Linked DNA regions of Homo sapiens: region 2 is linked to region 1. The links come from fine-mapping of genetic effects on gene expression. A gene starts in region 1. The other region holds a variant in brackets. All regions are shown on one strand. Distances are between the middles of the regions.

What was found.
Region 2: its variant is fine-mapped to the expression of COLGALT2 in tibial nerve (GTEx, PIP above 0.99).

The regions. Positions count from the first base shown.
Region 1 is chr1:184,034,571-184,039,947 of GRCh38, forward strand. COLGALT2 (collagen beta(1-O)galactosyltransferase 2) reads right to left here and starts at 3,158. Exons shown (of 12, transcript NM_015101.4): 1 at 2,525-3,158. The coding sequence starts at 2,787. RefSeq lists a silencer at 2,881-2,970.
Region 2 is chr1:183,965,008-183,970,384 of GRCh38, forward strand. It overlaps COLGALT2 (collagen beta(1-O)galactosyltransferase 2), which reads right to left. Exons shown (of 12, transcript NM_015101.4): 5 at 4,262-4,466. Among named protein-coding and RNA genes, the nearest start is that of COLGALT2, 70 kb to the right of the region's middle. The variant A/G (reference allele first, on the strand shown) is at 2,925.

The sequences.
Region 1 (5,377 bases):
CTGATCTGGCTGGTTCTTATTTTAAAAAATGCATTAGAAGAATATGCTTGTACAGCCTCTCTGTACCTCAGTTCTCTCACCTGTAAAGTGGTATAATAACAGTGCATATCTGATAGGGTCATTTTGAAGCTTAAACCAGAAAATGAATGTGAAGTTCTTAGAAGAACCACGAGCTCTTATTATTATGTGTGGAATTTATAAATAAATGTAATTTTGAGTAAGTCAATCACTTTAAACACATTTCTTCTTCTGGGAAATAGAGATAATTTTATTTCTTCACAGAATGGCAGTAAGAATCAAATGAGTTAACAGTGCATGGAAGTTATTTCCAAAGGTTCTTTACAGCTCCTTTGTGAGCTGAAAAGAACTATTTAGAAACTGGGATTTGTATTATTGTTACCTAAAGAATTACACAATGTTTTAAAGACAGAACCAAAATTTTTCAAAGAAGAGTCTTCAATGACTGACGCAAGCATGGCCTTGCACTTCTTGCTTAACCTGCCAATGCTGGACATAAAAGACAACAGATTTCAAAGGTCTATGCAGAACTGGAATTCTCTCATCTAAGTAAGACACCAGTGTCCATACCATCTGGAACTTACAGGGAACTTAGGATGTACATTGATGCTGGTTGATCCTAATTATATTGCAAAATCTATGGAATTCAAGAGCCATAAAGAATTTTTGAAATCATTTATTCCAACTCCCTCGTTTTATTGATGAGGCAACTGATGCCTATGGATCCCAAGCAACCAGCCCCAAATCACATATCAAACTAGTAATAAACAACTCAAGTCTCCTAATTTGTAGATTATAGGCTTATGTAAATTTTGTTTATATCATGTTTCCTGCCTTTTTAGGGTGGCCTTGGGTTCAAATTCCAGTTTCACCATTTATTAATTCTGTCACTTTAAGTGACTTACTGAACTGATGCAAGTCTGTCTCTTTCTTTGCAAAATAAACATCATAGCATCCTCTTAAAAGTTTACTGTATGATAAAAAGAGGTAATGTCTCTAAATCAGGTAGCAAAGCATGTGCCTGACACCTGCTTCACCACTCACCAACTTCTTATGGTAAATACTGTAACGTTTTAAAAAACTAAATCATGCATAAAGATCAAAACCATATTTTAAAATATCTCTTAAAAAAAACACAACAACTAAGGTAACTGATATGTGTGAATTTCTTTTGGTACCGAAGTGGTTAAAAAAAAATCCTTCCTTCTGGTTTAAAGCCTGGCTGTCCCAGTGCTCTCTTTCCACATAATATGCCCTTCTCCGCCAGGCGGTCACGTATGGCAGGGTATATAGTAAAGCAGTGTACAGCACAGAGCTGTACTATATCACATGTTTGCTTTCGCACCTTTGCACCTCTCCCACCAGGTACTCTGAGGCTGCCAATTCTAGCTGCTGCTTTTACTCCTCTTCCTCTCTTTGCCCAACCGCTGCTTTAAGGATGTGTCTCGCCTGAGAACAGCTCCCTTTATCAACACAAGACAGAAATTGCTCCAGAGTGACCTGGGCTCTGTCTTCCTCAGGGGGCCAGAGTCTTCTTGTCCGAGTACCTACCTGACAGCACATCTCCCCTGGCCAGCATCCACCTCCTTGTCCTCCACAACCCACTCAGCGGCTAACCTGGCCACCAACTAACTTCTCGCCCTCGGATCCTCGCGTTTATAAAAGGTGCGAGACGACCAAGTTCTACAAGGTGGGGCGGGCAGGCACCCGCACTTATCCCCTGGCCCTCCCCGCAGCAGACACAGGGACCAGGTCCAAGCTTCTTTCCTCCGGGGACAAAACTTGGCTGTTTATCTTTCCCAGGGCATCTTCGTCTCTCCCCGGGACGTGGAACCCCGATGCACCGGCAGGGACAGCCCGGAGCGCTCGCAGGAGACCAGGCCCACGGTGGTGCCATGGTTGGGCACACTCCGCGGGCTCCGCCCAATCTCCACCCCTAGGTCCAGGTCCCCCTAGGAGAGCTAGGAGCACATTTCCAGCCTGGAGCAGGAGCCCGGCACCGGAAAGTCAGAGCAGCGCACTGCGGCGCCCCAGCCACTGCGGAGCCCCTGGCCAACCGCAGTTACGTTCCATCTGTCGTATCTACATGGGAATACGGCGACAGGCACCCTATCCCCTCACGTCAGGGCTAGCAGTATGAGGTGGGGAAAGAGGAAACCTCGAGAGTTAAAAGCGAGGGAACTGAAAGTCCCCTTGAGGGGTGTCCCCCATGCCCCTTGTGGGACAAAGCCCCAATTCGCAGGCTACCCTCCAGAGCTCCAGCGGTCCGGTTCTCCCCATCAGCACCCTCTGCGCACACTGACCCGCGCGTCCCTCCGCAGCCTGACCGCCCGATCCGCCAGCCACCGGCGCGGGCAGCGAGGGGGTGTGTGCGCCAGATTTTCCGCGTGCCCCCCCGCCCCTCCAGCGGCTCCCTCGCCCTGCAGCTGCTGCTCCGGGCGCTGTCCGCGCTGGGCAGGCCGCCCCCGCGTCCCGCCGCGGCGGCCCGGGGCCCGTGCGCGCTCACCAGATGGCCATCCTGCTCTTGGGGTAGTCCAGCCGCTCCAGGCAGCCGAGGAAGTGCGGCAGCGTGTGCGCCGCGTTGCGGGCGAGGACCGCCACGAGCACCGTGGGGCTCTGCAGGGGCGACTCCGGGAAAACCACCGGCTCCTCTCCGTCGTCCTCCGAGTCCCGCTCGGCGACGAAGCGCGCTCGGCAGCCTTCGCGGAGCAGGGCTGAGGAGAGGAGCAGTAGCGACCAGGCGAGGGTGGCAGCAGGGCGCGCAGCCATGTTCCGGGCCGAGGCGGGCGGCGGGGAAGTCCTGGCGCGAGCGCCCGGCTGGGCTGCCTGAGGGCGGCGGCGGCTGCCGGGGAGCAAGGGGCTGCGAGGGGCGGCCGGGGGATGCGGCTTGCCGCGGCCGGCCGGCTCACACACTGGCCTCGGCGGCTGCGGTTCCCAGGACCCTCCCGCCGCCGCTGCACCGCCCAGGCCCCAGTGCGGGTGCGCAGCGTACCTGCAGCCGCTGGCGCTCCCCTGCGCCTCGGGCTCGCAGACAGTAGTGGCCGAGGGGCTGTGTGCCCTGAGTCCTGAGGAAAGTTCCTCTAGTCCAGGTTCCGCTCGTACAGCTGAGGTCTGTGGCCTTCCCTAGAGCCGCGAGTTGTGGCCCTGTCTGCCAATGAGCCTGTGAGTGTGTGTGTGTGTGTGTGTGTGTGTGTGTGTGTGTGTACATAACGGTACAACCCCAAGAAAATTTATTCTGCTTTTGCAAACCGCAGACTGAAGCCCTTCACAGTGATGCAATGTATCCAGTTTTCATAATGCACCTATTGACTGAGTAGAGTTCTAAAATGAAAAGTCTCCCCAACTATTCACGATTATGACAAACACTTGTTTAACCACCGCAAAGGCAGCATGTCGCATTTTCTTATATACTCAACTTCTGAAATTCATTCTTGACTGAGTAGACACCTAATAACACAAAGTTTGAAGACTTGGAGAATTTTGGAGCCAGATCAGACCCCGCAAAATAAAAGAAAGCCCTTGGGAGACACTGTCCTGAAGCCTCACTCTACTGTGAACCCAGTAAGCCTCCTCACAGGAGGGCTGTGAAAGAATAAATTCACTTAGCTGGTTTTCTTTTTCCGTAATAAGCCAATATGATAGAGTAACAAAGAGGGAAAATTCGCGCATGTTGGAGAGCAGAGAAGAGATAAGGAAGAAAAGAAGGGGTGAAGGAAGAACACAATTAGCACATAAAATGAAACTGCTGGCATACACTGCTAAAGGAGATTTACTTTTTTTTTTTTTTTTTTTTTGAGACAGGGCCTCACTCTGTTGCCGGGGCTGGAGTGCAGAGGCACGATCACAATTCACTGCAGCCTCGACCTCCTGGGCTCAAGCAATCCTCCCACCTCAGCCTCCCGAGTAGCTGGGACCACAGGTGTCCATCACCACGCCTAGCTAATTTTTTTTTTTTTTTTTTTTTTTGTAGAGACGGGTTTTCACCATTTTGCCCAGGCTGGTCTGGAACTCCTGGGCTCAAGTGATCTGCCCAACTCGGCCTCCCAAAGTGTTACGATTACAGGCATCAGCCACCATGCTCGGCTGGATATTTAGTTTTGAAGATATATTGTGTAGCCTTTGATAGATAAGTATGGAGGGTGTTTTGGTGCCAGTGCACATTCATGATCTCCAATCCCAACTCACCCTCAGGTCTGTCCCATAGTCTTTTTATTAGTTGTTATCAATCCTTCTCAGCAACTATTAGAAGTCTTCCCTACTGTCTTTTGAAGTATATCACCTCCTTCATCCAGCTCCCCCAACACCACTGTCTCCAACTAGCATCCCTACCAAGACCTTTCTTACTTGCAGGTGCCTCCTCACGACAGGGTCTTTGATCACAGACTAGAAAGGGAGAGGTCTCCCTTTCTAGCCCATGATTTTTCTCTATCATTCCACTCTCTACTGAATCTTCAACTGATCTCTATCAACTCCTTTCTCTCAAGCTAAATACTTGGTCAGTCTTCTCTTATCCGTTAAAAAAAAAAGAAAGAAAAGCTTTAAAAAAAAGTCCTGTGTCTTCTTCTAGTCATCCCTTTGCTTGACCAAGCTCCTTGGAAGAGAGATCTATACTTGTATTCTCCACTTCTTCATCTCCCATCTTTCCCACCACAGTGCAGTAAGGCGTCAGCCCTCCCCACTGTTCTGCAAAACCAACAGATGGCCTCAGCATTGGCAGATTCAGTAAACTCTTCCGTTCTCACCTTCCTGGACTTCGATTACATAATCTCCCATCCTAGATCTCCTCTGATACTACTTGTCTCTGAGCCAAGCCCCTTCACTGTGTGCCTCCCTATAGTGTGCTAGTCTTCCCACTCCATATGGTCTCCTGTGGTTATATCCTCAAAATCTATGTCTTCTGCTCTAATCTCTTCTCTAATCTTCATATTTTTTTATCGAATGGCCTACAGACATTTCCTTCCCCTCCATCCATTTTCAGGAATTGTTCCCACTTTCAAGGGGCTCACAGTCTTGTAGGGAAGACTGAGAGTTAAACATCTGTTAGAAGTACTGTAACAGATGTACCAGCTACAGTGAAGGGATAGAGGAAGATGTGGTCATTTCCACAAGGGAGGTAGTGATGGGACTGTTAGAAAGGTCCAGACAATCTCCATGTTGTTCTGTCTTTCTTGTTTCCCTTTCTTGAACTATGTCCCACTCATCTTTCAATACTAAAATCCGCACTCCTTAGCCAAACTTGGTTTGATAGTTATCATTTGTTCACTTTACTGCAAACAGAGGGAGTTTAAAGCTAGGCAACCACATTTCTGTCTTATTTTCCTTCTGTTACTGATATGGTCTGCCTATGTCCTCACCCAAA
Region 2 (5,377 bases), 70 kb before region 1:
TCATCTGTCAAATCAGGTGAAGCTGTCTCATGGCATTAACAGAGAGGAAGGAGAAAAGAAAATAACCTTTATTCCCTGCTTTTACTGAATCTGGCTTGAATCAAGGCTGGTCTACCAAGCACTGTCCCTTCTCTTGCCTTCACCGAGCAAACTCATTAGCTCTGCTGTTTGCCCATATGAATGCTTCTGGGGAGCTTCAAAGTGCACCTTCTTGTAAAGTCATGATGAATTCAGGAAGTGGAAGGAAAAATATATTAAAGTTGCATCTCTACCCTAATTAGGCAAACCATTTTACCATTTAACTTTCTGAGGCTTCCATAAAAAAATGATATGATACCTATCCAAATTATCCATCAAGTGTGAGGGTACAAGGAAGGCATTTTTAGACATGCAAGACCATAATATATTTACTTGCCATCATACTTTCTCAGAAAGCTGCTGGATGATGTGAGAGAAGGACGAGGAGGAAAGGAAGGAAGAGGAGGAGGAGGAAGAAGAGGAGGACGATTATAACCAACAAGAAAGATTATAAACAACATGAACAGGAGAGTCAGTGTATAAGAGAAGAGAAATAAGTCTTAGGTTGATAGCTTCAGCACCACTTGGATTAGAATATATTAGAAAGCTCCAGAACAGACGTCTTCGCAAATATGCAAAAAAGGACATCTGACAAATCTGGACATTCTGAGAGGAGTTTGAGGTAATTAGTGATTAGTTTTGGATCATACTAGTAATAATAAAACTAAGCAAAAAAGGCAATTATTAAAGGAATTGCCTCCAAAGAATGGCAAAGGAAAACTAATCATAGCCTATGAATGACCAAGCTTGGAGTTAGGCTTGCATGATTACAACAAGAACACTGACCATCAATCTGTTTGAAATTACAATGGGAGAACAGGGTGATGAGAAGAATGTGTTTGCATGCAGAGGGCAAAAAGGAAGAAAAAGAGCTAACTCCTCACAGTCTATAGTGGAGAGTCAACAAATAATGCCCACGGTGAAGCCAGAAAATCAAGAAGTAGCAATGCATGCATATTATTTAACATGGAAGTAAATATTAGAGATAAAAGTGGTTGCCTTCTGGAGGACAGAAGTGATGCAGGGTGATGTGCAGGGGACTGTTCATTTCTTAATAAACCATGGGGAACTATATGAATACTTTCAACCATGTGCATGGGCAGTTTGATAACAGAAAATTTAAAAGAAAATGTATTAATAATTAGATAAAGTCTATGAAAGAGTCTGCACTCCCAGTGAATGCTGCTTCTGGGGAAGACAATTTTTCTTTTGAAAAAGAGAAGTGAATTACGCTACATTTTGAAGGACTGTTTTTCTTTTAAACATATTAAACATTTTCTTGTACTCATATAGTACCTTAACATTGCAGATTGATGTAATTATCCCTATCTTTGGTGATGAAAAATCAGATTCAGGCTGTCACTTGTCCAAGGTCACATAGTAAGTCATTAGTGCCAAATCTTTGTCCCTAAAGAGCCAATGCCAAGTGCTTTCTACCCAGTCAGTAATTGGAAGCTCAGTTCCAAGACCATTAGTCACTAGGGGATTGCCATCCCTCCACAAGGGGACAAATTTGATCACTACCAGTGGTGTTCAGGATCTGTCTGCCCATTGCCCATATCACTCACCTCTTTTGACTCACATCAGACATTTGGAAGACGACTGGCTGGCACTGGGATGATTCCTGTGGCCATGATACAGAACCCAGATCACTGGCCACAATGGGAGGTGAACTCTTGACCCTGGACTCATTACAGGAACAGAGACGCGCCTATGACCATATGTGCTCTCTTCTTGGGCTAGAAGGGTGGCCAAGCCCTGCTCACCAGCACACTTGGATTGCTCCTCACTCATCACCCACATGGGGCAATGGCTAGAGTCTGGGGTGAAAGATTTAGGACCAAGGTTTGTGGTTGGATGGTCCTGCCTGGGACATAGATGATACACAGCTAGGGAGCTTCAGAAGAGTGAGAACAAAAGAATACCAATCATATTTCATGAAGAAAGAGGAAAGTGCTTTGCTTTGAAACTAAGGAAGGAAGAGCCTGGAGACATGCCCTGGGCTGCACATGACTCCCAGGCTCATTCATGTTTCTCTTGAAAATACTTAGAGATAAGTACAATATTACCTTAAAATCCACAGTTGTCAAGAAAGACCTTTCATTTCCCCAAAATGACAGTGAATCTTTCCTGCCTTGACTCCTGCCCTGTTCATGGTCTGCACCGCCAGTCTGGCCCTTAGCTTTCACTGCTTCATGACTATTAGTTGTGTTTTCACATGTAAAAATCTTAACTCCCAACTAACACCGTGCCAGGAACAGAAGGAAACACTTGGGAGTTCATCCTCTCTCTTTCCTTTTCTATCTCCTCTTCCCAAATGAGTCACCAAACAACTTTGGGTGTCTACCTGCTTTCAATGTTCTAAAAAAGCCTTTTCAAAGTCTGACCAATAACACACAAAATCCTGGTGAACAGGCCAAGCACAGGGCAGAGCTGAAAAATTCCTGCTTAACCTGAATCATTTTTCCCATACCAATATCCAGGTATTGGTTTCATACAATGTATCATAATAATTTAGTTCATTGCATCATAATAATGCTTTGTGCAGTGACTATAAAGGAGGACTCTGTTAGGCAGTGTCATTCGTGTAATTGTTAATATCTCACTTTCTTGGAACATCCTAACTTCAACCTCTGAAGGAAAGGGATTGGCACTCAAAGGACTCAAAAAGCCCTGACTTTGCTTCCCATCCTGGGGAAGTCAGAGCAAATCACAGACCAACTGAAAGAAGGAGTTTCCATTAACACTGACATAGGAATCTTTACAAAAATCTTCCAATCATATGAGGATTGCTTTTGCCTAGACATAAGGGCTACAAAATGCCTACACCTGGCCAAAGGGTCTAA[A/G]TTGCTCCAGCAGCCAAGGGGGAAATCAGCCTGACCCATTTCTACCAAATATTCTTATTCTCAGCAAATCTACAACTGATGAGTGGGACATCTATGGCTTTAAGGAGAGTCTGATGTGTGAATTGTAGCTTGAATTTGTATTAACATTCTCATCTGCCAGCCACTTCCTCAGCTGCCGGAGGATCTTTGCACCATCTTTTCCACCCTCAGTTATATGGCCACAGTGAGTTTATTCACCATCTTCTTGGTTTATGAACGTATTTTTGCTAGTGGTTAAGTGACACATTTCTGGCACATTAATAATGGGACCCAACTTCTGTCAGGAAAGTCTGAATTATCCTAACAAAGCTTTGCTCTGTTAGATGCCATGTGTCTTGCTGTTGAACTGCTCTTGTGAATTTTGTCCTCCTGAAGCAAGTGTAGGGTGAAATGAGAGAAATAACTTTCCTTCCTGTTGACTTGTCTTTCTCAAAAATCTCCAGGCCCCACTAGAAATGCTTTCCCAGTGGTTCATAAAAGACCTCAGTCTCGCTTTGCCTCTCCTTCCACAGGGACTGAGGCTGAGACTGTTCGGTGCCTCTTTATCTGTTCTTTCCTTCTTCTAGAGTGTGAAAATTGCAGTGCATGCATGCAGAGAATAAAGACGACATTCTGAGCCTCCCTTACAGTGAGGTATTGTCCTGTGACTAAGCTCTAGCTAACAGGATTTGCATGGAAGTACTGCATTCAACTTCTGGATTGCACACTTCAAGGGACAGGGAGAGTTCTCCCTGTTGTTTCTGCCTTGCTGGCTGAAACGCATCCATGGTGGTGAGACACCTGGGACTCCACAATTAAGGGCAGTACCTCGTGGAGTGTGAGAAGCAATACACAAGAAGCCTGGGACTCTGAACACTTTGTGGAACAAAGCCACTACAGCAGCTCAGACTTTTTCAAGAAGAAATAAACTTCCATTTTTAAAGTCTGGGGTCTTTGCCAGTGTTGTTTTAGGCCTCTGTGACAGTTTCCTAATTAATAAATGAACTTCTATAATAAACAATTGCAATGCAGTAGCACCACAGAGAAGCAATCACCTTCCCATAATTCCCAATATCACCACCAGTCCCTCCAACTCAAAATAGAGTGGGTTCCTGGGTAGAGGCCAGCCCTGGCTCTTGGTCATTGGTGCTCCCAGGGACAGCAACATAGAGGGTGCTGGTATGGTTATTGCAGACAATTTACTGCCTCTCACTACCAGACATATGAGGGTTTTTTTTTTTAATAAAATGCACAAAACAAAGGAGCTGGTCATTTTGCTGTGTCTCCATTGTGGCACTACAACCAAAGACAAACAGTACCTGCTTGCCTGCTGGAGAAGGCAAAGACAATGATGTCATCAAAGGTCCAGGTGTAGTCCTGGTGTGGGGGGTAGAAAGTCAGCTTGTCCGAGGCCTCCTTCCTGAGGTCAATTAGGAAGGTGGAGTGGACCATGGGGACGGGGAAGCAGCCTGTCCTCTTCCATTCTCGAATCTGAACGTAGTCTGGGGTCCTCTTATAGAAGCCCTGTAAAAGAGCAAATAGGTGGGTTGTGTTTTCTGATTTGAAGTCTTCATCCTTCTCAGTCATTTGCTAGACTGATTCCTTTCAAGTCATTACCAGCTATATACAAGCTCCCAAACAAAGCCACCTTCACTCCTCTTATCATGGCCTATGAATTTCCAAGTGAGCACAAGAAATGCTGTCTACATATAAAATAATACTAAAAGGGTCTTGATATAAGAAGTAACTTTTATTTCAGCATATCTCTAGATTTAATAATTTCATAAAAGTGTATTTTATGTTGACTTATGATTAAATATGAAGCATGAGTATTAAGAAGTGGCAGAGCAGTTAAGGGCACAGGTTCCAGTGTCAGACTCCCTGAGTTCAAATCCTACCTCAGCTACTTATTGTCTGTAGGTATGGGTCAAGTGACTCAACCTTGCTGCGCTTATTTCCTCATCTCTAAAACAGGGATGACGGCACTATCTACTCCATGGGGTTAGCTGTAAAATTTAAGTAAGGTAGAACCTGAATAGTGTTGAGACTACTGCCCAGCACCAAGAATGTATCAGCAAATACCGGCTCCTATTAAAATGACATTACACTGTGGCTAATATTTGTAATTAAACATGCATTACTTAGATATACAAATGAGGGTCTTCTTTCAATGCAGTTACTTAGTCAATATTCTGGTGAAGCTGCAGCTGCTCCATAGTTTTTGGGGATTCAGCTTCTGAAACGTCCTTCTGCACAAGCACACAGGACAACCAATTTCCTTATTCCAAAGCTTGAATCATTTCCAGAAAAGATGAAGATATATCTCAACAAAACATGCTTACAAAACATACTTGTGGAAGCTTTGCCAGGCATTTTGGAAAATGTTCTAGGTGATGGCAGGCTCACTGGAATGAGTGTTAAGTTTTGCAAAGCCA